Linked DNA regions of Homo sapiens: regions 1, 2, 3 and 5 are each linked to region 4. Evidence: fine-mapped expression QTL. A gene starts in region 4. Each other region holds a variant in brackets. All regions are shown on one strand. Distances are from middle to middle. Region 1 overlaps ASAP2 (ArfGAP with SH3 domain, ankyrin repeat and PH domain 2). Region 2 overlaps IAH1 (isoamyl acetate hydrolyzing esterase 1 (putative)). Region 3 overlaps ASAP2 (ArfGAP with SH3 domain, ankyrin repeat and PH domain 2). Region 4 holds the start of ADAM17 (ADAM metallopeptidase domain 17). Region 5 overlaps ADAM17 (ADAM metallopeptidase domain 17).

The links.
Region 1: its variant is fine-mapped to the expression of ADAM17 in whole blood (INTERVAL, PIP above 0.99).
Region 2: its variant is fine-mapped to the expression of ADAM17 in spinal cord (GTEx, PIP above 0.99).
Region 3: its variant is fine-mapped to the expression of ADAM17 in whole blood (TOPMed, PIP 0.98).
Region 5: its variant is fine-mapped to the expression of ADAM17 in whole blood (INTERVAL, PIP above 0.99).

The regions. Positions count from the first base shown.
Region 1 is chr2:9,304,365-9,309,467 of GRCh38, reverse strand. The region is part of intron 3 of ASAP2 (ArfGAP with SH3 domain, ankyrin repeat and PH domain 2); the gene reads right to left. Among named protein-coding and RNA genes, the nearest start is that of ASAP2, 100 kb to the right of the region's middle. The variant AAGG/G (reference allele first, on the strand shown) is at 2,721.
Region 2 is chr2:9,483,974-9,489,076 of GRCh38, reverse strand. IAH1 (isoamyl acetate hydrolyzing esterase 1 (putative)) reads right to left here. Exons shown (of 6, transcript NM_001039613.3): 5 at 4,527-4,645; 6 at 1-930. The coding sequence ends at 748. ADAM17 (ADAM metallopeptidase domain 17) reads left to right here. Exons shown (of 19, transcript NM_003183.6): 19 at 1-591. Among named protein-coding and RNA genes, the nearest start is that of IAH1, 12 kb to the right of the region's middle. The variant T/CT (reference allele first, on the strand shown) is at 3,154.
Region 3 is chr2:9,392,295-9,397,397 of GRCh38, reverse strand. ASAP2 (ArfGAP with SH3 domain, ankyrin repeat and PH domain 2) reads right to left here. Exons shown (of 28, transcript NM_003887.3): 24 at 3,751-3,916. Among named protein-coding and RNA genes, the nearest start is that of ITGB1BP1, 29 kb to the left of the region's middle. RefSeq lists enhancers at 3,273-3,910, 3,911-4,548. The variant G/A (reference allele first, on the strand shown) is at 2,094.
Region 4 is chr2:9,553,122-9,558,224 of GRCh38, reverse strand. ADAM17 (ADAM metallopeptidase domain 17) reads left to right here and starts at 2,395. Exons shown (of 19, transcript NM_003183.6): 1 at 2,395-2,716. The coding sequence starts at 2,620. RefSeq lists silencers at 1,471-1,765, 1,737-1,956, 2,187-2,476, 3,091-3,385.
Region 5 is chr2:9,510,750-9,515,852 of GRCh38, reverse strand. The region is part of intron 10 of ADAM17 (ADAM metallopeptidase domain 17); the gene reads left to right. It also overlaps a transcript of IAH1 not described here. Among named protein-coding and RNA genes, the nearest start is that of IAH1, 39 kb to the right of the region's middle. The variant A/TA (reference allele first, on the strand shown) is at 2,806.

The sequences.
Region 1 (5,103 bases), 250 kb after region 4:
ACCCCTGATCTGCTTCTTTGCCAGAGAACACTGCACTTTCCGGAATTTTATATACGGTATCTGGAATCATCCCGCATGTACGCCTTTTCATCTGGCTTCTTGCATCATGATTTTGGGACTGCGCATGACTGTGCGATTCATTCATGTAGTTGCGTGTACCAGTAGTTCACTTCTTTTTCTTGGCCAGCACTGTTCCATCATATGGCTACACTGCCGTCTAGCCAGACACCTGCTGATGGACATTTGAGTTGTTTCCAGTTTGGGGGATACTACGGATACCACAAATAAAGATGCCATGATCATTTGTGGGATGGAGACTCTTTCAAATAGTGTCAGAAAGGCCTTTTTATAAGGTGGTCTTGGAGCAGAGCGCAAAGGAGGCGGGGCAGAGAGCCACATGAGGACCTGGGGGAAGTGCGCTCTGGGCCAACGGGACTCTAACACAAAGGTCCTGGGGCAGGAGTATGACTGGCAGGTTCAAAGGACAGCTCTCTGTTCTTTCTAAAGGCCGCTTATCTGAAAGAACGGGTATCCAGGCAGAAAGTATTTTTGAGAAGCACAAGGTACTGACTAAAATGGCCTGAATAAACCACCAGATGACACAGGGCCCTTTAATCCCATTCAACCCTTGCAATTACTCTGAGAAGTATGTGCCGTGACCCCCATTTTGCAGGTATGGCAACAGAGGCTTGAGTCATCCACGTTGCCTCCAAATCACACAACTATTAGCAGCGGAGTTGGCTAGAACAGTGAAGCCAGAGCTCTTCCTCTCAGCTCACTATTAAAGACGGCTGGACTGAAACTCCTGCTGGCACAGGGCAAGATGGTTTACACCTGCCAGGCCAGGCTAAGCTAAGCTGAGGCTGGGCACATGCTGCCATCCTAGATGCTGTCTCCATCGAAAAGCCCTCCTGTTCCCTTTTACACAGAGCAGCCCGTCAGGTACATACAAGGAAACTCTAAACAGGAAAATCACTGATGTGGTTTGGGTCTGTGTCCCCGCTCAAACCTCATGTCCAATTGCAGTCCCCAGTGTTGGAGCTGGGGCCTGGTGGGAGATGACTCAATCACGGGGGTGAAGTTCTCACGACTGGTTTGGCATCATGCCCCTTGGTACTGTGTAGCAAGTGAGTTTAAAAGTGTGTGGCACCTCCCGCCTCATTCTTGCCCCTGCCCACGGCCATGCGAAGTGCTGGCTCCCCCTTCACCTTCTGCCATGATTGTAAGTTTCCTGAGGCCTCCCCAGAAGCCGAGCAGAGCAGATGCTGCCATGCTTCCTCTACAGCCTGTGGAACCGTAAGCCAATTAAACATATGTTATATATGTGTGTGTTATATATGTGTTATATATATGTTACCCAGTCTCAGATATGTCTTTATAGCAGTGCAAGAACAGACTAATACAATCATCTAGGCCACTTTTGTTTTTGGTGTCAGTGAACAGATCCCCTGGGCCACAGAATTGCCTTGAGGTCTATCATACACACATGCATGCACACGTACACATATGCATGCACACAGACAAGCACACGTATGCACACACTCCCGTCTATGCACTCTCACACAGGGCCCTCCTGAACAGATGCGCCCAGCCCGTCCCTGGCAGCACAGTCGCTGTTTAATTAAAAAGGAGAAGGGGGAGCCCATGCTGATCCTAAGTGTTTAACACAAACTGAAAGATCAAAACCAGCCAGCTGCCAAAAACACATTGGCAACTTTCACACCAGAACAAGGAGGAAAATCGCTGACCTGGTTTCTGCTCTTAATGCTGCTTCTCTGGCAGTCAACAGCTCTGATCTTTCAGGCTCTAAGTGGAGAGAAAACTGGGCCCTCTGCCCCCTTCTCCACTAGAATAAAGGATAAGCTTGGACATGTCAGTCAGCCACCAACAACCACACTGACACCAGCTGAAGGCCGGTTCTGGGAGCCGGAGGGCAGCACTGGAGAACCCAGGACTCAGGCACCCAAAACTACTTCTAAAACCGGGTGATGGTAAAACATTTGCTGAAGCCATCAACCAGAAATGAAAGTACTTTTTCAAATGTATTACCTCCAAGAATCCAGGTTTAGGAAGTAGCTCTGACCTCCACAGGACCTGGGGCACCTGAAGTCTCCATCTCGCCAAGGGTGAGAGTCGGAAGCACTGGACCCAGGCTGTCCTTGGGGCAGTGGTTCTCAGTGTGGCTCCTGACCAGCAAGGCCAGCGTGACTAGGAACAGGAAATGCAAAACCCTGGGCCCTATCCCAGACCTGCGGAATCAGAAACTCTAGGGGAAGTCCAACAGGTGTGGTCTAACAAGCCACGCAGGCGATGCTGATGCACTCCAGCTGGAGAGCCACAACCCTGCAGGTGAGGTGTGGAGGCTGGGGCTGCGCATTTCTAACAATTCCGGTGCTGCTGGTGCAGCTGGCCCAGGGGCTGCACTTGGAGGACCTCTGCTCCAGGGCAGTGCTGCTCAAGCTTGACTGCCTGCTATTGCCTGGGGCTCCTACACACTAAGATTCTGGCTTTGCAGGCCTCCGAGAGGCTGGAATTCTAAGAAGCCCCAGGCGATTCCAGTGATGCTCTGTGGATGTCCGGCCAGGGCCCCTGGGGCACCAATGGTACAAACCCTGCCCACATGCCTTCTAAGCTGGAACCTGGAGTATATGGGCACTGATATGGGGTGCCAGGCTTCAGATTTTAAGCAATGATTACCAAACGGCTGAAAGTTCCCAAAG[AAGG/G]AGGAATGCAAACAAGCACATGCTGAATTTCTATCAATTCGCTGACAATTCCCTCAGCGAGCCAGGAGCAGAGGCTTGACTCCTGGCTGGGCTCATCAACCCGAGGACAAAGGGGCACAGGATCTCCACAGCTCACAGCCCCCCATTTTCCTTCTCATCAACCTTGAGCTTCCAGCTCCTTCCCTGGGGCCCAGAAACAGGCTCAAGCCCCTCTCACCCTAGGAACCCTTCCCACCTGCTTTCCTCTTCCGTTATCAACCCTTCTTAGAACAGTGAACACCTGTGGTCCCTATGCCTCCACCTGCAGCAGCCGCTCTTCTGCCTTTAAGAAAGTCTGGGAAACGTCCCTGAGGCCCCTCGCAGGCACCCAAGCCGACACGGCTGCTCTTCTGCATCCCTGCTGCGGATGTGGCTCCCCGACCTCCTTCACTCACAACCCCCACTACTACAGCCCTCCCACCCGGTATCTCTATCCCCTACAGCCCCACCAGGCCATATCTCCACCCCCAGTACTACAACTCTCCACGTGGTATATACACCCTCCTGCAGCGCTTCCACTCCCTCTCTACACCCCTAGAGCCCCTCCACCCCATGTCTACACCCCCACTACGCCAGCCCCTCCACCAATATATACACCCCTCACAGCCCCTACCCCCATAACCCCACCCCCTACAGCCTCTCTACCTCATATCGATACTCTCCCACAGCCCCTCCATCCCATATCTACCACCCCACTACTACAGCCTCTACACCAATATCTATACCCCACTACTACAGCCCCTCCACCAATATCTGTACCCCACTATTACAGCCCCTCCACCAATATCTATACCCCACTACTCCAGCCTGTCAACCAATATCTATACCCCACTACTACAGCCTCTACACCAATATCTATACCCCACTATTACAGCCCCTCCACCAATATCTATACGTCACTACTCCAGCCCCTCCAATATCTATACCTCACTACTACAGCCCCTCCACCAATATCTATACCCCACTACTACAGCCTCTCCACCAATATCTATACCCCACTACTACAGCCTCTCCACCAATATCTATACCCCACTATTACAGCCCCTCCACCAATATGTATACCCCACTACTCCAGCCTGTCCACCAATATCTATACCTCACTACTCCAGACCCTCCAATATCTATACCTCACTACTACAGCCCCTCCACCAATATCTGTACCCCACTATTACAGCCCCTCCACCAATATCTATACCCCACTACTACAGCCTCTCCACCAATATCTATACCCCACTACTACAGCCTCTACACCAATATCTATACCCCACTACTACAGCCTCTCCACCAATATCTATACCCCACTATTACAGCCCCTCCACCAATATCTATACCTCACTGCTCCAGCCCCTCCAATATCTATACCCCACTACTACAGCCCCTCCACCAACATCTATACCCCACTACTACAGCCTCTACACCAACATCTATACCCCACTATTACAGCCCCTCCACCAATATGTATACCCCACTACTGCAGCCTGTCAACCAATATCTATACCTCACTACTCCAGACCCTCCAATATCTATACCTCACTACTCCAGCCCCTCCACCAATATCTATACCCCACTATTACAACCCCCTCCACCAATATCTGTACCCCACTATTACAGCCCCTCACCAGTATCTATACCCCACTATTACGGCCCCTCCACCAATATCTATACCTCACTACACTAGCCCCTCCACCAATATCTTTACCCCACTACTCCAGCTTGTCCACCAATATCTATACCCCACTATTACAACCCCCTCCGCCAATATCTATACCTCACTACTCCAGCCTCTCCACTAACATCTACACCCCACTACTCCAGCCTGTCCACCAATATCTATACCCCACTATTACAACCTCCTCCACCAATATCTACACCCCACTCGTCCAGCCCCTCCACCAATATCTATACCTCACTACTCCAGCCCCTCCACCAATATCTATACCCCACTATTACAACCCCCTCCACCAATACCTATACCCCACTAGTCCAGCCCCTCCACCAATATCTATACCCCACTATTACACCCCCTCCACCAATATCTATACCTCAATACTACAACCCCTCCACCAATATCTATACTCCACTACTCCAGCCTCTCCACCAATATCTATACTCCCAAGACTACAGCCTCTCCACCCTGTATCTACACCCCCACAACTGCAGCCCTCCCACCTATGTACATCCCCCTACAGCCCTCCCACCTGTATCTACACCCCCCCTACAGCCCCTCCACCGCATATCTACACCCCCTACAGCCCTTCCACCCCCTATCTACATCCCCACTAGAGCCATTCCACACAGTACCTTGTAGATTTGGCAAACAATTTTTTTCTAAGTTTGAGGT
Region 2 (5,103 bases), 69 kb after region 4:
AAGACTTGATACTTCAGAAACCCTTTTTATTGACCCACAAGCAGATATTTGAATTACTTCTTACTTTATTGCTCCAGGATTCTGGATGGGCTGCATTTACTGTGTGAAGGATAAAAATCATTAGCCTGGATTCTGATTTCTATAAATTGCCATTAAAAGCTTTTTTTCCCCTAAGAACTGAAATGTGCTCACCAGCCAAAACATTTTAACTTGTAAATTTTGAGGGCAGTTAACCAAACCTGTGACTAATCATATCTCCTCCTACCCCCCATTTCCAAGGACATTTGTTACTCAGATACTTGTTATACTAATACTTGAACTTGTACCTTATGGTATTTGCTATCTTTTAACTAGTCATGATATTCTTATACTTTAGTTACACTTTTGGAATTTGATACAAGGTTGAGTGGGGTGTGTGGGTGTATGTATGAGTGAAACAGTTCTCAAAAGAATGTAAGAAAAACCATTTTTATAAAATTGTGACTTTTTAAAAACATAGTCTTTGTCATTTATAGAATTAACAAGCTGCTCAGGGTATATTTTATAGCTGTAGCACTGATATCTGCATTAATAAATACTGTCGAAACACAATGGACCTAAGTATAAAACTTCCCTGAAAAATCATCTAATACTTTTATTATTAATATCAGTGGCAAAGGTTTAAGCCTGAGGAAAAAAGCGTACCTCTACGTATTGACAACTTTGAGTTCTGTAGATAACAAGCAGATTTGGGTCTCCTGTGATTGGCTAATGGTCTCCATCTCCCAGCAGACTTAATTCAGGTTTTGCTTCTGCTACATCCCGCCAGTAAGGAAGCAGCAAAGGTAGAGAAGAGACCTTTTTCTCTATCAAAGGCCAGAGATGCGAGAACAAAAATTCATTCCCCTTTGGAGACAAATGTAGTCCATCTGATAAATAAGATGAGAAGTCCTAGAAGGGAGAGAAATCGGTTAAAGGTGGGTAACTGGCCACGTGTGGTAGCTCACCCCTGTCATTCCAACACTTTGGGGCCGAGGATTACTGGAAGACAGGAGTTTGAGACCCTGTCTCTACAAAAAATTTTAAAAATACAAAAATTAGCTGGGTGTGGTGGCAAACACCTGTATTCCCACCTACTTGGGAGGCGAAGATGGGAGGATCACTTAAGCCCAGGAGTTGGAGGCTACAGTGAGGTATCATTGCACCACTGAGTTCCAGCCTGGGTGATAGACTGTCTCCCCCCACAGCGCGCGCGCGCGCGCGCACACACACACACACACACACACACACACACACACACACACACACAAAAAGGCCGGGGAGGGAGGGTATAACTTTTCTAAATGCCAGTGTGTACCATTCTCTCATTTGTGGCCCTGCGACAGAAATATCACCAGCCCCTTTCATTGTAGGCATCTGACCAGAGGTGTCTTGGACTACAGTAGCACTGATGTGCTATTTACGTAGGTGTTTGAACACACAGAGAACCCTGACTAGTGCTATAGTGCTGTCTCCATATTATAGAATTGAGTTTCATGAAAGTCACTCACCATTAAGTGAGCTGGGACCTCATTCCAGGTCTTCTGAATCATATGACATGATTCTCAGGTTATTTGAAAGAACCTTAACAGGTAAATATGGCCTATTAACGTAATCAGCAAAAATGAAAAATTTGGTATTAGGAGTGTTCAGGGGCCCCATGAGTCAATATTGTTTTTGACTCTAGGCAGGTTTTTAGGCAGAAAGAACTTCTACCATCTAACCTAGAACAGTAATTGCTGGGACACAGGAGTCCAGTCTCCCTCCCATTGCCCTGAACTCAAGAGTACATATTTAAAAAGATACACATATTTTTGGAGACAGGGTCTTGCTTTGCTGCCCAGGCTGGAGTGCAGTGACATGATCATGGCTCACTGCAGCCTCAACCTCCTGGGCTCAAGCGATCTTTCTAACCTCAGCCCCCTGAGCAGCTGGGACTACAGGCACGTGCCACCATACCTGGCTACCTGGCTAATTTTTGTGCTTTTTGTAGAGATGGGTCTCTCATTATGTTGCCCAGGCTGGTTTTGAACTCCTAGGCTCAAGCAATACTCCCACCTTGGCCTCACAAAGTATTGGGATCACAGGCATGAGCAGCCATACCAGGCCCTGAACTATAAGAATTTTACCCATACAGCCATTTCTTTCTTGGGGAAGAATCTCACTAGCCAAGAGCTCTGTTAGAATCTGGGTGGCCAACTAGCTTATGTGACTTTTTTTTTTTTTTTTGAGCTAGAGTCTCACTCTTGTTGCCCAGGCTAGAGAACGATGGCACAGTCTCGGCCTAATTCAACCTCTGCCTCCCGGGTTCAGGTGATTCTCCTGCCTCAGCCTCCCAAGTAGCTGGGATTACAGGTGACTGCCACCACGCCTGGCTAATTTTTGTATTTTTAAGTAGAGATGGGGTTTCAACATGTTGGCCAGGCTGGTCTCGAACTCCTGACCTCAGGTGATCCACCTGCCTCAGCCTCCCGAAATGTTGGGATGATAGGCATGAGCCACCGCGCCCGGCCTTATGTGACTTTTAATAGACCAGAAATTTAGATGCTATCATATAATAGTAGCACTTCTTCTTCGGCCTTGGTTTTCTCATCTAGGCAGTTTGAGATGAGATGATCTCTAAGGACGACCCTCTCAGTTTTGTATTAAATTGAAAAAGACATGTGAGCAAAACTAGCCCAATAGTTTGCAGTTTCCTTTCCTAGACAACAGAACTCTAGATGTCGACCCTTTTGGCACTCAAGCTGCCAAGGCCCCTCCTAATCTGGAATTCTGGAAGGTTCCAGTACTCCAGGGTTTCAGAGGAAGACTAGAGGCCTAGGGTCCAGATCTGCTTAGGCTCTCAGGGCCTCCAAAGGTGACTGGTGACTCGGCATCCACGTGGTAGTATGACTTTCCCACTGGTGACCATTTTCCCTATTACAGATGGATAATAAATGTGTAGGTCATTGGAACGATTGGTATGGATTAATATTTAGGGGAGAGGAAAAAGTTGGCACTTGGGTTAGTTTCTTGGCTGTTTTCTATGTTGCTTTGTCCAAGTAGCCTAAACCTAACAGCTAGGAATAGAGGAAACCGGTGAGGCTGTGAGTCTTCCCGTTTGTCCAAAGAGCTTCCCGCACACTGGATCCTTCC[T/CT]TCCCTTGAGTACTTCAAATATCATCAGTCCCGTCCAAGCTTTCTCTCTGGATCCCAGCATAGCAATGAAGTAGCCTTTAATGTGCCCTACTGAACAAGCTCTTTACAAAAGAGTAGCACAAGGTCACAGAAAAATTAAAAAAGACCAGTGCCTGTCTGCCCCTCTTCACCAGTATCTGTGTGGAACCTGAATTTAGCCATACCTTTCCTTGCCCTAACCTCTGGCCACCATGGACCTGTTCTGTTACTGCAGTCTTGCCTTTTTTTGGGGGGTGGGCTGGGGAGGGTGAGACAGTCTCCCTGTATCCTCCAGACCGGAGTGCAGTGGTGTGACCTCTGCCTCCCGGGTTCAAGCGATTCTCACACCTCAGCCTCCTGGGTAGCTGGGATTACAGGCGCGCTCCACCATGCCCAGCTAATTTTTGTATTTTTAGTAGAGACAGGGTTTCGCCATGTTGGCCAGGCTGGTCTTGAACTCCTGAACTCAGGTGATCCACCTGCCTTGGCCTCCCAAAGTGATGGGATTACAGGTGTGAGCCACCACACCCAGCCCAAGTCTTGCCTTTTTGAGACACCAAAACAGATGGACTCATGTAGTAAGTAGCCTTCAGAGACCAGCTTCCTTCCCTCAGTGAAGCGCCTCGAGAGTCACCCACGTTGCTGCGCTTGTCAGTTCCTCCTCTTTATTGCCGAGTAGTATCCCATTCCACGGACACACCAGTTTCCCTATTCATCACAGAAGGACACTGGCGTGTTTCCAGCAGGTAGGAATAATGCTGCTGTCAACAGTTACACCCAGGTTCTGTGTGAACATAGTTTTCATTTCTCTAGGGCAGATAACCCAGGAGTGGACTGCCAGGTCCTCCCTAAGTGTATGTGTGACTGCGTCAGAAACCAGCTGTCTCCTGAGTCAGTGCACCATTCCATGGGACCTGCTTTTTACCTTTTATATTTGTGCTTTCAGGCTTTAAAACAAAGTAACTTAATTAGAACTACATATCTCAAACAGTTTTATTAGCCAATACTGTATTTAAATTCATTGTTTTACCTATTAACAAGTTTTAGCTTTCTGCCATTCTCTGTATGAAAGAAGAACTTGGCCTGGACGTTCATAAATATGAGCCATGTGTTGCTCATTGATGTCACTGCGCACTAACTCCTAGCCAAGGAGCCTGGCTGAATTAAGCTGCTGGGCTTGTGAGCCATCCTGGAACCTCCATTCCTCCCCTCCCCCAAGCCTGTTTGTTTTCATTGGCTAAAGGGATGACTGTCTTAGCTAAGCAGGGCCTTTCTAGGGAAAGCTGCTGCACACACACCTGGTTTACTTCTGTGTGATCCTATTTACCCCGAGAGGACCGAGCAAGCCACCGTACCTGGCTGTCCTGCATCAGGGTCCACAGGTCAAGTACGTCAGTCCCACAGTCTTGGGCCACTTGTAAACACGCATTGGCATATTCACCAACAACAGAGTTCAGGCGATTTAGTTTGCAACCTATTGAAGAGAAGAAATAGAGGTGGCAGTTGGTAAACCCAAGTGCTGGCCCTTGTGTAAGTTCTGCTCCACTCATCTAGACAGTTTCAAAATGCCATTAAATATTGACCCCACTTGGGCCAGCCCCGGGGTTTAGGGTATATGTTGATGAGCCTTGCAGGTTACTGGTGTGCTGCTCTACCCAGCAGAGGACAAGGTGCAGTGGGAAGAAGGAGCCTTCAGTGGTAACCGGAATCTTCTGAGGCGCCAGGGAGGATGTTCTAGAGGACACCTTGAACAGAGGCAGAGAGGCAGGAAAGGCCCAGGAGGGCTGGGCTGCTTGGAGAGTGCCGGCTGCAGGAGCTGGGCTGGGGGCTGGTAAGGGCTGCACTAGTAGGAAATGCCAGGCCATGGAAGCTGAACGCTGCGCTGACACCGCTGGCTTCTTACATGTAACAGCTGGACCGCAACACAGCAAA
Region 3 (5,103 bases), 160 kb after region 4:
CCAGTCAGATGTGAAACCAGGTAAAATTGTGTTCCAGAGGAAACCTGTCCAGCTCCCGCCAGCTAGAACGCTTCTGAGAACAAGGAACCTGCACCTCACAGCTGACAACCACGGTTCTCAGAGTCCCAATAACTGCTGGGAGCTGACGGCTCCTTAGCCAGGACTTCAACACGTGATTTGTTTCTCTCGAAAAACAGCAGCATGGAAAGCGTAAATCCCAGGGAGTCATAAGGGAAGGCAGAAGAGAGCCCAGAAGCCAAGAGAAGCATGGCCTGTGGCCACTTTGGTATAGAGGCAGAAATAATTAGCACTGGAAAGCCCATTTATTACAGCATAATTCAGTAGCTGTTTAAGACTAGGAGGGCACAGATATGCATATTTTATTTTTATTTTTTTGAGACGGAGTCTGGCTCTGTTGCCCAGGCTGGAGTGCAGTGGTGTGATCTTGGCTCACTGCAACCTCCACCTCCTGGGTTCAAGTGATTCTCCTGCCTCTGCCTCCCGAGTAGCTGGGATTACAGGTGTGTGCCATCATGCCCGGCTAATTTTTGTAATTTTAGTAGAGATAGGGTTTTGCCATGTTGGCCATGCAGGTCTTGAACTCTTGGCTTCAAGTGATCCACCCACCTTGGCCTCCCAAAGTGCTGGGATTGTAGGTGTGAGCCACTGTGCCCAGCCCTGCATGTTATATTTTAGAAAGTTATCTTGCAAAGTAGCATTTAAAAAGTTTTGGGAGTCTTCTGGTTAAAATGGCAGATTTAAGTACATTTACTTCCATTTCTTTCCAAGGAAAAGGATTTTTAAAAATTAAACCTAAAAGAGGTGAGGCGCAGTGCCTCATGCCTGTAATCCCAGTACTCTGAAAGGCCAAGGTGGGAGGACTGCTTGAGCCCAGGAGTTCGAGACCAGCCTGGGCAACATAAGGAGACCCCCACCTCTACAAAATATAAAAATAAATTAACCGGGCATGGTGGTGCGTGCCTGTGGTCCCAGCTATGCGGAGGCTGAGGTGGGAGGATCACCTGGGCCCAGGAGGTCGAGGCTGCGGTGAACCGTGATCACACCACTGTACTCCAGCCTGGGCAACAGAGTGAAAGATAAATCACAGTCAACCTAGTTGATCTCAGGAATGGAATCCCACTCCAGCAGTGAGGAAGGCCCTGAAATGCTCCTATCTGTAGTCCTGAAGTGTCCTCAGAAGGCTCAGGACCCTCTGGAAGGGGAGAAAGGCAAGGTAGTATGCAGAAGAATTAGCCAAAAATCTGTCTGAGGAGCTCCTGAACCCCTGGAATCTCGCCCCAGCTCTGAGTAGCCTTAGCCGCTGCCCTGCCCAACCTACTAAGGACAGGAAGCTTCTATTCTTGGAGAGGGCAAAACGGACGGTGTCTGGATGGGGGATACCAGGTGCGGCTATTGGGAATATCTTGAAAAACAGAGGGACTAAGTAAAAGTTTAACTTTATTTCTCTACTCCTAAAAAACTTCAGGGATGGGCTGGGCACAGTGGCTCAAGCCTGTAATCCCAGCACTTTGGGAGGCCGAGGAGGGCAGATCACGAGGTCAGGAGATTGAGACCATCCTGGCTAACCCGGTGAAACCCCATCTCTACTAAAAATATAAAAAATTGGCCAGGCGTGGTGGTGGGCACCTGTAGTCCCAGCTACTTGGGAGGCTGAGGCAGGAGAATGGTGTGAACCTGGGAAGCGGAACTTGCAGTGAGCCAAGATCGCGCCACCGCACTCCAGCCTGGGCGACAGAGCAAGACTCCATCTCAAAAAAAAAAAAAAAAAAAAAAAAAAAAAAAGAAAAAAAACACAAGAAAAACAAAACAAAACAAAACAAAAAAACAAAAACACAGTAGTGCAGGGATTACAGATGTGGGCCATGGTGCCTAGTCTCCAAATTCTTTATTTTTTTATTTTTGAGATGGAGTTTCATTCTTGTTGCCCAGGCTGGAGTACAATGACGTGATCTCAGCTCCCTGCAACCTCCGCCTCCTGGGTTCAAGGGATTCTCCTGCCTCAGCCTCCTGAGTAGCTGGGATTACAGGTGCATGCCACCATGCCCAGCTAATTTTTTTGTATTTTTAGTAGA[G/A]GTGGGGTTTTGCCATGTTGGCCAGGCTGGTCTCAAACTCTGGACCTCAGGTGATCCGCCCACCTTGGTCTCCCAAAGTACTGGGATTACAGGCGTGAGCCATGGCGCCTGGCCCCAAATTCTTTATTGAGAGGTGGAACTGATGACTTCCTTGTGCCACTCCACAGTCCTCTCTGCCCCGACTGTGTCTGAGCTTGTAACTGAGCAGTGACGTATGGCGGAAGTCATTCCGTGCCAGCTTCCAGGGCCAGGCCTCTCTCTGGGGACCTGTCCGTGGACCCAGCCACCGTGATATGAGGAAGCCCATGCCAGGGACATGTAGGTGTTCTGGTCACAGCCCAGCTGAGGCTCTGGCTGACAGGCAGCGTCAGCTACCACGGGGGGCGTGAAGAGACTCTGACCGTAACCCCCAGCCAACGAGTCACCTCCTGTGTCCAACCACCCCCAGGCTTCGAGTCCTTTCAGCGAAGGCTCCAGACACTGTGGAGAAAAGACGAAGACCCCACAGTACCATCCAAATTCCTGACAATCTGTCAGCAGAATAAACTGGCTGTGCCTCATGTCTGTCAGTCTGGTGTGGTTTGTTACTAGAACAACTGAAATCAGAGATGTCAATGTGAACTCATGGATTTCAATACAGAAATATACGGAATAGAGAGATAAGTGGTGTATGTATGTATCCATGTACATGTGCGTATATTTCCAAGTTCTAACAGCTCAGAGGGCCTGTGTGGGAGCAGTGACTCTCCACCTAGCCCCCAGAACTTGGCCTCTAAATATCATTTCCACTAAAAGGAACCATTTCCCACCATAAAGATCCAGATTAAGAGCCACGAACTGGGGCCTGGTGCAGTGGCTCACGCCTGTAATCCCAGCACTTTGGGAGGCCGAGGCAGGTGGATCACGAGGTCAGGAGATCGAGACCATCCTGGCTAACACGGCGAAACCTCGTCTCTACTAGAAATACAAAAAATTAGCCAGGCGTGGTGGGAGGCACCTGTAGTCCCAGCTACTCGGGAGGCTCAGGCAGGAGAATGGCAAGAACCCTGGAGGCAGAGCTTGCAGTGAGCCGAGATCACGCCACTGCACTCCAGCCTGGGTGACAGAGCTAGACTCAGTCTCAAAAAAAAAAAAAAAAAAAAAAAGCCACAAACTAGACCCATCTGCAACAAGGGGCATTATTTGGACAAACAGCTAAGCTTGACCTGGGTCTAAGGATTGGGTGGTGTTTCTACATCCGTGTTAATTTCCTGATTTTGCAGGTGGTATTGTGTGAGGTAGGACAATGTCCTTGTTTGTGGGAAATCCACGCCTCACACCACAGAGGGTCTATGTGTTCAAAACAACCTTGGGAAAATAGAAAACAGAAACAGAGACCACCTGGGGGGTGAGCAGCAAATAGAACCCAGAAGCCTTGTGTGTTGAGGACACTTTGTCTGAATTCATTCTGTGGACTTAAAATGTACATTTGTAAGACATTTTTACAGTCTAAAAATCCTCCAGTTATTTTTAAGACCCTTCAGCCCCGATGAATTAGTTATGTGGCGCCCACGCTGGAGTAGGAGCCCTGGGGATTGCAAACATTCCTGCAGAGCCCTGGGCAGGTGAGGTCAGAGGGCAGGAGCACGGATGGCCGAGCTGGCTGGGGGTGGCTTACCCCGGCGCAGGCTTCTTCTGCGGGAGGCGGCTGGGCGGCTGTGGGGGCAGAGGTGGGGGCCTGATCTGTGAGATCCCAGGCGGGGCAGGCTTGCTCGGCTGGCTCAAGGCTTCCATTACGCTGGGCGTCTTGGCAACGGGTGGGGGCGGCGTGGGGGTCAGGGGATCTGCGGAGGACAGGGAGAGACGTGCAGAGGGTCAGCCGCCAGGCTTCCCACTCAGGCCTCCTCACTGGAGGCTTTTCTGAGAAGGGCTTCAGTTTTTTATTGCTATTTCCTAAGGAAAAACCTGCTGCTATTTCCTTGCCAGTTTTCAGAAAACCATTCACAGGGAGGAAGCAGGGAGTCCTTTCCAAACTAATAAGGAAGCTGGGAGCCTAAAGTTAGGATGACAATTTTTCTATCAGCCTGTGAGTGAGTATTTTCTCAGCTAGAACTCCCTGGGGGAAAGCCAGCAGTTTCCTGCTCTCCACTCAAAGACCCAACAGCAGGAGGCCGGGGCCCTCAGCTCTGCCCGGGGAAGCAGGGCCTGCTTTGCACATCGACTGACCTGTGGCCAAAGGGATGAGGCCCTACCCACTTCATCGGGCTGCTGGGCAGGGTGGATCTGAGGAGAGATGGGAGCTACTAACTTAGTAACGGCTCCTCAGTCTCCGGAGTGGGTGGGTGAAGAGCTTTCTTAGTGTCTACGTTTTACAGACAAGGAGGCTGAGGCCCACGGAGGGGAAGAGCTCTCGTCAAGGGTGGCAGAGCTGGTAAGACCTGGAGGGAGGCTGTGAGTCCAAGTCTCCTTCCTCCGTCTCTCCTCCCTTGATAGGCATTAAGCCCTCTCTAAATGTCGGGCTTATCATACTGGGCCTCAGGATGGGTAACACATAAGGCGCTGGGTTTCCCTCTGCCAGGAAAAGCCAGGAAGAATGAGGCCTTCAGCTACACAGAGAGGAAACTGGCGTGGGGAAACATGAAGGGATCCAGCTTATGATCTTTCTTTTTATCATTATTGTTTCCTTTTTCCAATTTAAAGGAAAACTCAAAAGTCTGACTCTAGCACACAAATGCAGCCCCTGGACCACCAGACGGAGAGGCAGGAAAGTGGTTCCTTCTGGCCTTTGGTGTGTTCGCCTTGGAAACCTCTGAAGACCCTCCCAGACCCACTGCTCCCGGCTCTGCTGCCGGCATGTGCACACATGGCACTGACTCTAGCTGGGGCTGGGCTGCTTTTAATTTTAACTTACTCTAAGGAAGTCACGAGCACCTCGGCTCTAGAATTCTCATGCTCTGGAAGCAATGAAGCCCAGAGATGCTGGACTCCCCACTCCAGGGCTGCTGCAGCAGGAGACAGGGCAGCATCCAGG
Region 4 (5,103 bases):
CAAAAGATAAAAGAGCCGGGCGCGGTGGCTCATGCCTGTAATCCCAGCACTTTGGAGGCCAAGGCGGGCAGATCACGAGGTCAGGAGATCCAGACCAGTCTGGCCAACATGGTGAAACCCTGTCTCTACTGAAAATACAAAAATTAGCTGGGCATGGTGGCGCACAACTGTAGTCCCACCTACTTGGGAGGCTGAGGCAGGAGAATCCCTTGAACCTGGGAGGCAGAAGCTGCAGTGAGCCAAGATCATGCCACTGCACTCCAGCCTGGCAACAGAGCAAGACTCCGTCTCAAAAAAAAAAAAAAAAAAAAAAAAAGATAAACTAATTAATCTATCCAGTGCCCCTCTTACCATATTCCTTTGGCTCTTTATCTCCCCCACGTGGTGCTCTTTTATCTTAAAAGTATGCACAATTGATAAATGAAAGATGAACTGCAAATTGGAATAATTTGGGTCCTGATTTGTGAATTGAAAAGATTACTTGAAATTTGGAATGTCCCTGGAAATCTAGGACTTCTGGTTATTCAGGCCAGGCGCGGTGGCTCACGCTTATAATCCTGGCACTTTGGGAGGCCGAGGCGGGTGGATCACCTAAGGTCAGGAGTTTGAGACCAGCCTGGCCAACGTGGTGAAATGCCATCTCTACTAAAAATACAAAAATTAGCTGGGCGTGGTGGCGGGCGCCTGTAATCCCAGTTACTTGGGAGGCTGAGACAGGAGAATCGCTTAAACCTAGGAGGTGTTCAGTCGGTTGTAGTGGGCCAAGATCACGCCATTGCACTCCAGCCTGGGCAATAAGAGCGAAACTCTTTCCCCCACCACCCCCCCCCAAAAAAAAGAAAAGAAAATGGATCGGGATTTTTTTTTTAAACGGCATTTACTAAACAGCTAAGTACCTTCTATGAGCAAGGCACTGTACAAGAGCTGTTGGGGATACCAAAATAATACAATCTACGATCTACTAAAGTTACAAGCCGGACATTATGGTGACTGGATGTTCAGAAAAGAAACCAGATGACATTATTATGGTACACCAAAAAAGCCCCCCAAAAACCGTACTCAACTGTCACATTCTTATGGAATACAATTTTTACAGATTGTATACAATTTGCATGTGAAATTCTGCTTACTTTTTGACTAGGTATGCCACTAATGGGTATGTTTAATAAAGATATTTTATACTTCAGATGTACAGACCAGGTCCGGTTAATTTTAGCCAACAATGTATTGTTGAAAAAGACGCTGATATTTTACTGCGGCAAACCACCATTAACATAAATTTTAACCACAGTTTGAGTATTTTATTAGGAATAAGCCTTGAAACTTGAATAGGACTAGTATTCCTAACAATTTACCGTTTCATAATAAAGGCTGTCTCACTCTTAAGTGGAAAACGTATTATGTCCTACTTTTATAAACTTTGGTTGAACTAAATAAAACAGCAACATGTACCCAACGTTTTTAGACTGTTTTATTCAGTACCATAAACATTCACTAAACTATACAGAGCTAAAATCATGCAAAAGATTGCAAAACAAACTGCCTTGGGAAATTTCCAGTCTAAGCTAAATGGACCAAGTATAGGATTGAATTTTAAGAAGTTGGTGGGAAGATTCCAGCTCTTGTACTCACAGGTAAGGTCCTAGGATTCTATTTGTTGAAGTGTCTGCAGACCCTCTCCCTACAGCAGGGGCGTGGAGCAAATGTGCATTCAGGAAGTGCTTATTAGTCCCCCCAAAACCTTTTTCGTGACGACAGACGGATGGAGGCCTCAGACGACTCCGGCAGTAGGACCCTGAACCAAATGCCTGAGCTGCGCTCGAAAGGCTCGTCTCGCAGGAGCTGGCGAGTGGCACGGGCTTCGGTGGCCGGGCTCGGGGCTCGGGGCTCGGGGCCCGGGGCCGGGGGGGGCGGGGGGTCCGTGCCCAGGGCACTCTGTGGCTCGATTCATGTCCCCGCCCTCCCACCTGAGCACACTGGGCAGAGAGCCTGCGGCATCGGGCCAGTCGCGCCTCCTCGTCCGCCCTGGGCAGGTCGCTGGGCCCCAGGCCGCTTTCTACAGCTCCTTTAATAAAATGGACAGCAGGGGTCCTAACCAGACGTGGGCATCAAGACAAAGGAGGCGGCCAGACGCGCTTGAGGGCCTGCTCGCTAGCTCCCGCCCCCCCATTCCGCGGTCACCCGGGGACAGAGGCCAGGCCGGACTGGGTGGAGTTGGGACTCATACGTCTGCGTCCAGGAAGGCGCCGGGCGAGCCCCAGCTAGACGTGACGGGCGGGGCCGAACACGGCAGCGGACCAGAGGCCCGCGGCGCACCGGCGTGGGGCGGGGCAAGCGGAGCCTCCCGGGATGCCGCGCGGCAGCCGGCTTCCGGCTGTGGGTGGTGCGGGGGACAGCGGCGGCCGGAAGCTGGCTGAGCCGGCCTTTGGTAACGCCACCTGCACTTCTGGGGGCGTCGAGCCTGGCGGTAGAATCTTCCCAGTAGGCGGCGCGGGAGGGAAAAGAGGATTGAGGGGCTAGGCCGGGCGGATCCCGTCCTCCCCCGATGTGAGCAGTTTTCCGAAACCCCGTCAGGCGAAGGCTGCCCAGAGAGGTGGAGTCGGTAGCGGGGCCGGGAACATGAGGCAGTCTCTCCTATTCCTGACCAGCGTGGTTCCTTTCGTGCTGGCGCCGCGACCTCCGGATGACCCGGGCTTCGGCCCCCACCAGAGACTCGGTAAAGACCCAGGGGAGTTGGCTTAGGCCGGCGCCTGGAGCGCTCGTTTGAGGGAAGAGCAGGGGAGCTGGGTCTATCAGGTGTTTGGGGGCGGGGTATTGGCGATGGTGGCGCGTCCCTAAGTTTTCAGTGTAGAAGGGGGTGTGGCTCTCGGAGTTTGGGGAAAGAATAAAGGAGATGGGCCTGTCTCTGAGTGGGAAAGGGCTACTGGACGGGCTCCATGTAGTGACTGAGCGCCTGAGAGGGGTTTGCTCCCTAGCTTTGTGTTCGGGGAGGGTGTTGGGAAAGCGGTAAGGAGTAGGGTGGCTGGATCTTGTTTGGAGAGGGAGATGTGGTCAGGGTTCTTGCCTTAGTAGGGAACAAATCTAGTGTTGTGTGTTCCTACCAGAGCCAGAAAGGAAGGGCCCAAAGCTCCAGAATTCTTCCTGGTCCTCGAAGGAGGGAACTAGAATTTCTGCTGTAGGAGGTACTTATGCAGTAATCTCGTTGGGAGGCGGAGACTGGAGTTGGAGTCTTAAGAGTTGTGTTTTTGCGAACATCCTAAGCACGTTCTTGGTTATTTCAATTGTAGCTTATTGGAGGTGCTTGGGAGATGGGGGGAGGCGGAAACCTGGTAAGCCAACTCGTGATGCTGCCACTATGAATGCTTTCCTTGCACTTTTAAACAAAGAAATTATCAAGAGTGACGAGTTTGATGAATTTAGAGGCTAGAAAGTAGAGGGTTCCTATTTCATTAGATTTTCCAGAGAGATTGGATTTTAAGGATGGAGATGCATTAAGGGATCTGAACTTTGGTGGAAGTAAGTTTGCGTGAACTTTTAGTGTATTTTAAAATCCTTTTATCTTTCAAAAATTGACGTGTAAGATACTTTAATTAGTAATAAAGTGTGAAATAATGTTTTCCCAGTGTGTGAAATTGTAGGCTTGCATGGTTGTACTGGTTCCCAAATTTCACCATGATACCATGTGTAGTATTTTTTTTCTTTATATTTAGTGGACAGAAATTGTAATGGATTGGTATGGATACTAAAGGTGTTGAGAGTGTTATCACTTGAACAGCTGTCTTATGATTCTTTCCGATTGAAATGGATTACAAGTGACTAATGAAAGGCAAGGGATCTTGTTAGGAAGTGCTGAGAAGTGGTAAGTCAGTACAAATTGAAGGACATTTTGAGGTAGGATTGTGGTTAGGATGGAGGGATAGGGTAAGGGTCTTCATTTTAAGGATAAATGTTAGTAAAAAGAATAAATATGTATTTTGAGATATTAAAATTATATTTGCACCACCCTGACACAACTGTTTCACTTATGTTATTAATCTGTTGTTCGTAGGTAAAAATAAGCATGAGTCCCAAGGAAGCATACAGTTTAAAGAGAAACATTACTTTCTAGATCAATTCATAACATTTGCAGATCGTAAGGTTTTTTAGACCATTTTTTTTTTCCAAGACAGAGTCTTGCTCTGTTGCCCAGGCTGGAGTGCAGTGGCGCGATCTCAGCTCACTGCAACCTCCGCCTCCCGGGGTTCAAGCAGTTCACCTGCCTTAGCCTCCTGAGTAGCTGGGATTACAGGCATGTGCCACCACGCCCAGCTAATTTTTGTATTCCTAGTAGAGACGGGGTTTCACCATGTTGGCCAGGCTGGTCTAGAACTCTTGACCTCGTGATCCGCCCACCTGGGCCTCCCTAAGTGCTGGGATTACAGGCATGAACCACCGCTCCTGGCCCATGTGTTTGTTTTTTATTTGCAAAATGCAGACCACCTGTGCCAGAAGAATGCATAGACTTTTCTTTTTTCTTTTCTTTTCTTTTTCTTTCTTTTTTTTTTTTTTTGAGGCAGTGTTTTGCTCTTGTTGCCCAGGCTGGAGTGCAATGGCGTCATCTCAGCTCACCACAACCTCCGCCTCCCGGGTTCAAGCAATTCTCCTGCCTCAGCCTCCCAAGTAGCTGGGATTACAGGCATGTGCCACCACGTCCGGCTAATTTTTTGTATTTTTAGTAGAGATGGGGTTTCTCCATGTTATTCAGGCTGGTCTCGAACTCCTGACCTCAGGTGATCAGCACACCTCGGCCTCCCAAAGTGCTGGGATTAAAGGCTTGAGCCACCAGGCCCGGCCTCTTTTTTTTTTTTTAAACGAAATATTTGAAGGACACACAAGTATTATACGTGGCATTGGAAATACAAAGATCAGACGATATCCATCTTCAAATGGTTATAGCATAGGGAAATAGACATTCATTTAGGACACTTCTAAAACAGCATAGAGGAGAGTGCTAGAGTACGTTATAGCAAGTGTTATCACCAAATGAATCTTAGAGATCAAGTCTAGTTTTCAAATAAAGGAGGAGGAAAATGAGTCTCAGGAAGATGCTGTCAGTTGTCAATG
Region 5 (5,103 bases), 42 kb after region 4:
CTATGGAGCAACAGGAACTCTCATTAATTGCTAGTGGGAATGCAAAAATGGAACAGCCACTTTGGAAGGCAGTTGGCAGTTTCTTTTCTTTTTCTTTTTTCTTTTTTTTTTTTTTTTGGAGACGGAGTTTCACTCTTGTCACCCAGGCTGGAGTGCAATGGCGCCATCTCGGCTCACTGCAACCTCTGCCTCCCAGGTTTAAGCAATTCTGCCTCAGTCTCCTGAGTAGCTGGGATTACAGGTGCCCGCTGCCACTCCCAGCTAATTTTTGTATTTTTAGTAGAGATGGGGTTTCACCATGTTGTCCAGGCTGGTCTCGAACTCCTGACCTCAGGTGATCCGCCTGCTTCAGCCTCCCAAAGTGCTGGGATTACGGGTGTGAGCCACTACGCCCAGCCATAAGAATGTTTATGGCAGCTTAATTCATAATTGATAAAACTTGGAAGCAACCAAGATATCCTTTAGTTGGTAAATGGATAAACTGGCACATCCATAAAATGAGAAAAAAATAAAAAGCTATTAAGCCATGAAAAGACATAGAGGAACCTTAAAAGCATACTACTAAGTAAAATAAGCCAGTCTGAAAGGCTACATACTATATGATTCCAAATATATGACATTCTAGAAAAGACAAAACCATGCAGACTATAAAATGATCAGTGATTGCTAGATGCTGGGGGAGGGAGGGATGAATAGGTGGAGAGCAGGGTAATTACTCTGTATGATACTTCAACAGTCAGTATAAGACATTATGCATTTGTTGAAACACATAGAATATACAGCACAAAGAGTGGACCCTAACATAAACTGTGGACTTTGGGTGATTTAAAAACAGGTGGTGGCAGGAGCCTATAGTCCCAGCTACGCGGGAGGATCACTTGAGGCCAAGAGTTAGAGGCTGTAGTGTGATAAATGCAACTGTGAATACCCGCTACATTCCAGCCTGAGCAACTTAGCGAGATCCTCCTTTTCTTTTTTGAGATGGAGTCTCGCTGTGTCTCCCATGCTGGAGTGCAATGGCATGATCTTGGCTCACTGCAAGCTCTGTCTCCTGGGTTCATGCCATTCTCTTGCCTCAGCCTCCCAAGTAGCTGGGACTACAGGCACCCCCACCACCACGCCCGGCTAATTTTTTGTATTTTTAGTAGAGACGGGGTTTCACTGTGTTAGCCAGGATGGTCTCAATCTCCTGACCTTGTGATCTGCCCGCCTTGGCCTCCCAAAGTGTTGGAATTACAGGCGTGAGCCACCGTGCCTGGCCTGAGACCCTGTCTCTTTTTATTTATATATATATATATATATATATATATATATATATATATATATATATATATTTATATTTTAAATTTAAGTTCTAGGATACATGTGCACAACGTGCAGGTTTGTTACATATGTATACATGTGCCATGTTGGTGTGCTGCACCCATTAACTCGTCATTTACATTAGGTATATCTCCTAATGCTATCCCTTCCCCCTTCCCCCTCCCCCCACCCCACGACAGGCACCGGTGTGTGATGTTCCCCTTCCTGTGTCCAAGTGTTCTCATTGTTCAATTCCCACCTTTGAGTGAGAACATGCGGTGTTTGGCTTTTGTCCTTGCGATAGTTTGCTGAGAATGATGGTTTCCAGCTTCATCCATGTCCCTACGAAGGACATGAACTCATCCTTTTTTATGGCTGCATAGTATTCCATGGTGTATATGTGCCACATTTTCTTAATCCAGTCTATCATTGTTGGACAATGTTGAACAATAATGTAGAGTGGTATGAGAAAAGAAAAAGACACTAATTAGCTTTTGGGAATCTTTTAATTTCTTTTTTTCTTTTCTTTTTTTTTTTTTTGAGATGGAGTTTTCTCTTGTTGCCCAGGCTGGAGTGCAATGGTGTGATCTTGGCTCACTGCAACCTCCGCCTCCCGGATTCAAGCAATTCTCCTGCCTCTTTCTCCTGAGCAGCTGGGATTACAGGCATGCGCCATCACGACCAGCTAATTTTGTATTTTTAGTAGAGATGGGGTTTCTTCATGTTGGTCAGGCTGGCTCTCAGGTGATCCGTCTGCCTCGGCCTCCCAAACTGCTGGATTACAGGCGTGAGCCACCGTGCTTGGCCTTAATTTCTAAATTTATTTTTTTCTTATGGTACTTTGTTTTAGGGGAAAAAATCTCTCAAACTGTGTTTTCCCTCTATTCTCACATCACAACCATCATCATCAACACAGAAGACTTGTGTGACCAGACCAAACGTGTGGGGATTTCCCCCTACATATCAAGCAGTAGACATCAGCTAGGTGTCCTCCAATTCAATTCAAACACTCTCCACCCGGAAATAGTATCAGATCTCACAGTTTGAGGGCCCAGTCCCACAAGACTGACTGTTCCCTCCTCCCCACCAGTTACAAGTCTGAGCCTCCAGAACTTCTGACCAACTGGCTTCAAGTTGGGGTTTCCACATTCTCCTCTTTGGGTCTGATTAATTTGCTTAAGTGGCTCACAGAACTCAGGGAAAAGCTTAACTTAGTTTATGGGTTTATTACATAGGATATTTTAAAGGATACAAAGAAGCTGGGTGCGGTGGCTCACGCCTGTAATCCCAGCACTTTGGGAGGCCGAGGTGGGTAGATACCTGAGGTCAGGAGTTTGAGACCAGCCTGACCAACATGGTGAAACCTCGTCTCTACTAAAAATACAAAAATTAGCCAGGTGTGGTGGTGCATGCCTATAATCTCAGCCACTCGGGAGGCTGAGGCAGGAGAAGTGCTTGAACCTGGGAGGCAGAGATTGCAGTGAGCTGAGATTGCGCCACTGT[A/TA]CTGGTCAACAGAGGGAGTCTTTGTCTCAAAAAATAAAAAAAAAAGAAAGGATACAAAGAAATAGCCAAATGAAGGGATACATAGGGCGAGGTCTGGAAGGGTCCCGAGTACAGGAGCTTCTGTCCCCATGGAGTTGGGATGTACCTCCCTCCTGGCACACGAATGAGTTTTGCACCTTCCTGTCAACCTCCATGTATTCAAAATGCTCTCTGGAAGCTCTCTGAATCCTGTTTTTTGAGATTTTATGGAGGCTTCATTACATAAGCACGAATGACAACTGTGTAGAAATGTGATTGGACAAAATGGGTATGTTCTCATACTAACCGACTGAGTGGGGAAGCCCACCAAGGCCTGTCCAGATTCTCCTTGACCTCTCTGTGCAGCATTCCTCCCTCCACAGTAAAGGGCAGGACCCTCTCTAGAATGAGAATGAGAATGAGGATCTCTGGACCCACAATCAGATTAGAGTCTTGCCTTGGATCAGGTAAAAGGAGGACAGGAGAAGGTCAGAGAGAGAGATTCTGTTTCCTGAGGATTGCTCCTGAGCCCTAAAGCACCCCAACATTATAACAGAAGACCGTAACCAGGGCTACGGAGGGTTGTAAGCCAGGAGCCATGGACAGAAACATACATGTGTGTACAGTAGCTCACGCTTTTACTTTTTTGGAGTCACAACTTCTTAATGGCTTGATTTCATGACATATTTTCTTTGGTCTTCCAGAACTTTCCTCTTAAAAAAACACAGCAAAAAAACAAAATTTGATTTGAAATTTTTGAGATTTTTTTTTAAGAGTCATTAGCAAATCCACTAATGAATTTTCCCCAAGCAGTTAGGAGATATTTCTCTTCATTACACCTTTGGGATTTGAGTGCTTTTGCTAAAAATTTAAGTTTTTTTTCCCACTACGGTTTTAATATGAACATGTGGAAAGACTTCTTGTATAGAAAAATGACTTGCAAAATATTATTTTTTCAGGTTCTATGGAGTGATTTCCCCCCCTTAGGAAAAAAGAACTCAGGAATTTTAAGTTTATATGTATATATATTTATTTTATTTTATTTTATTTATTTATTTTAAGACAGACTCTCACTCTTTTGCCCAGGCTGGGGGTTCAGTGGCCTATCTCGGCTCACAGCAACCTCCGCCTCCTGGGTTCAAGCAATTCTTCTGGCTCAGCCTCCCAAATAGCTGCGATTACAGGCGCCCACCACAATGCCTGGCTAGGTTTTATATTTTTAGTAGAGACAGGGTTTCACCATGTTGGCCAGTCTGGTCTGGAACTCCTGACCTCAAGTGATCCAGCTGCCTTGGCCTCCCAAAGTGCTGGAATTCCAGGCGTGAGCCACTGTGCCTGGCCTTTAAGTTTGATATTTTATTCAGATAAATATGGAAAAAAAATTTTAGCTTTATTGGCAAAATTTATTATTCATATAGAAATCATCTGATAATCTGATAGATTAAGTACAGCCCTGCAACTGGATTCTAATAAACCAAGTCCTCTAGGTCATTAAGATTGTTATTGGACATGAATTCAGTCATTGAGAAAATAAAACATTGTTTTGTTGTTCCTCAGTTGTGGTTTTTGTTTTTTTTTTAAGATAGAGTTTCACTCTTGTTGCCTAGGCTGGAGTGCAATGGCATGATCTCAGCTCACTGCAACCTCCGCCTCCTGGGTTCAAGTGATTTTCCTGTCTCAGCCTCCCGAGTAGCCGGGATTACAGGCGTGCGCCACCACACCCAGCTAATTTTTTGTATTTTTAGTAGAGATGGGGTTTTACTATGTTGGCCAGGCTGGTCTCGAACTCCTGACCTCAGGCGATCAACCCACCTTGGCCTCCCAAAGTGCTGGGATTACAGGTGTGAGCCACTGCGCCTATCCGTACTGTTTTTTTTACCCCTTGCTTTTTTTTTCCTTTCTGCTGAGATGCTTTAGGTTTTAACAGACATGTGATTGGGCCGAGGGGCATGTGAGGAGGCTGGACAATTAACTACAGTTAGCTTATTGCATTTATCAGCACCAGATTGTGTGTGGTTGAAATGGCCAAGGTTTGATGTTTTGTTATGAATGTTCCAGTATATCTTATAAATTACATTTTCTTAAATTGATTTGTTACTACTTACAATAATGTTTGATAGTATTAAATAAAATCCTACTTATTCTGTTAAATTCATATAATTGGTAGAAGAATCATAGTCCGGTTATTACTCTTTTTTGAGACAAAGTCTTACTCTGTCACCCAGGCTGGAGTGCAGTGGTGTGATCATAGATCACTGTAGCCTCAGCCTCCTGGGTTCA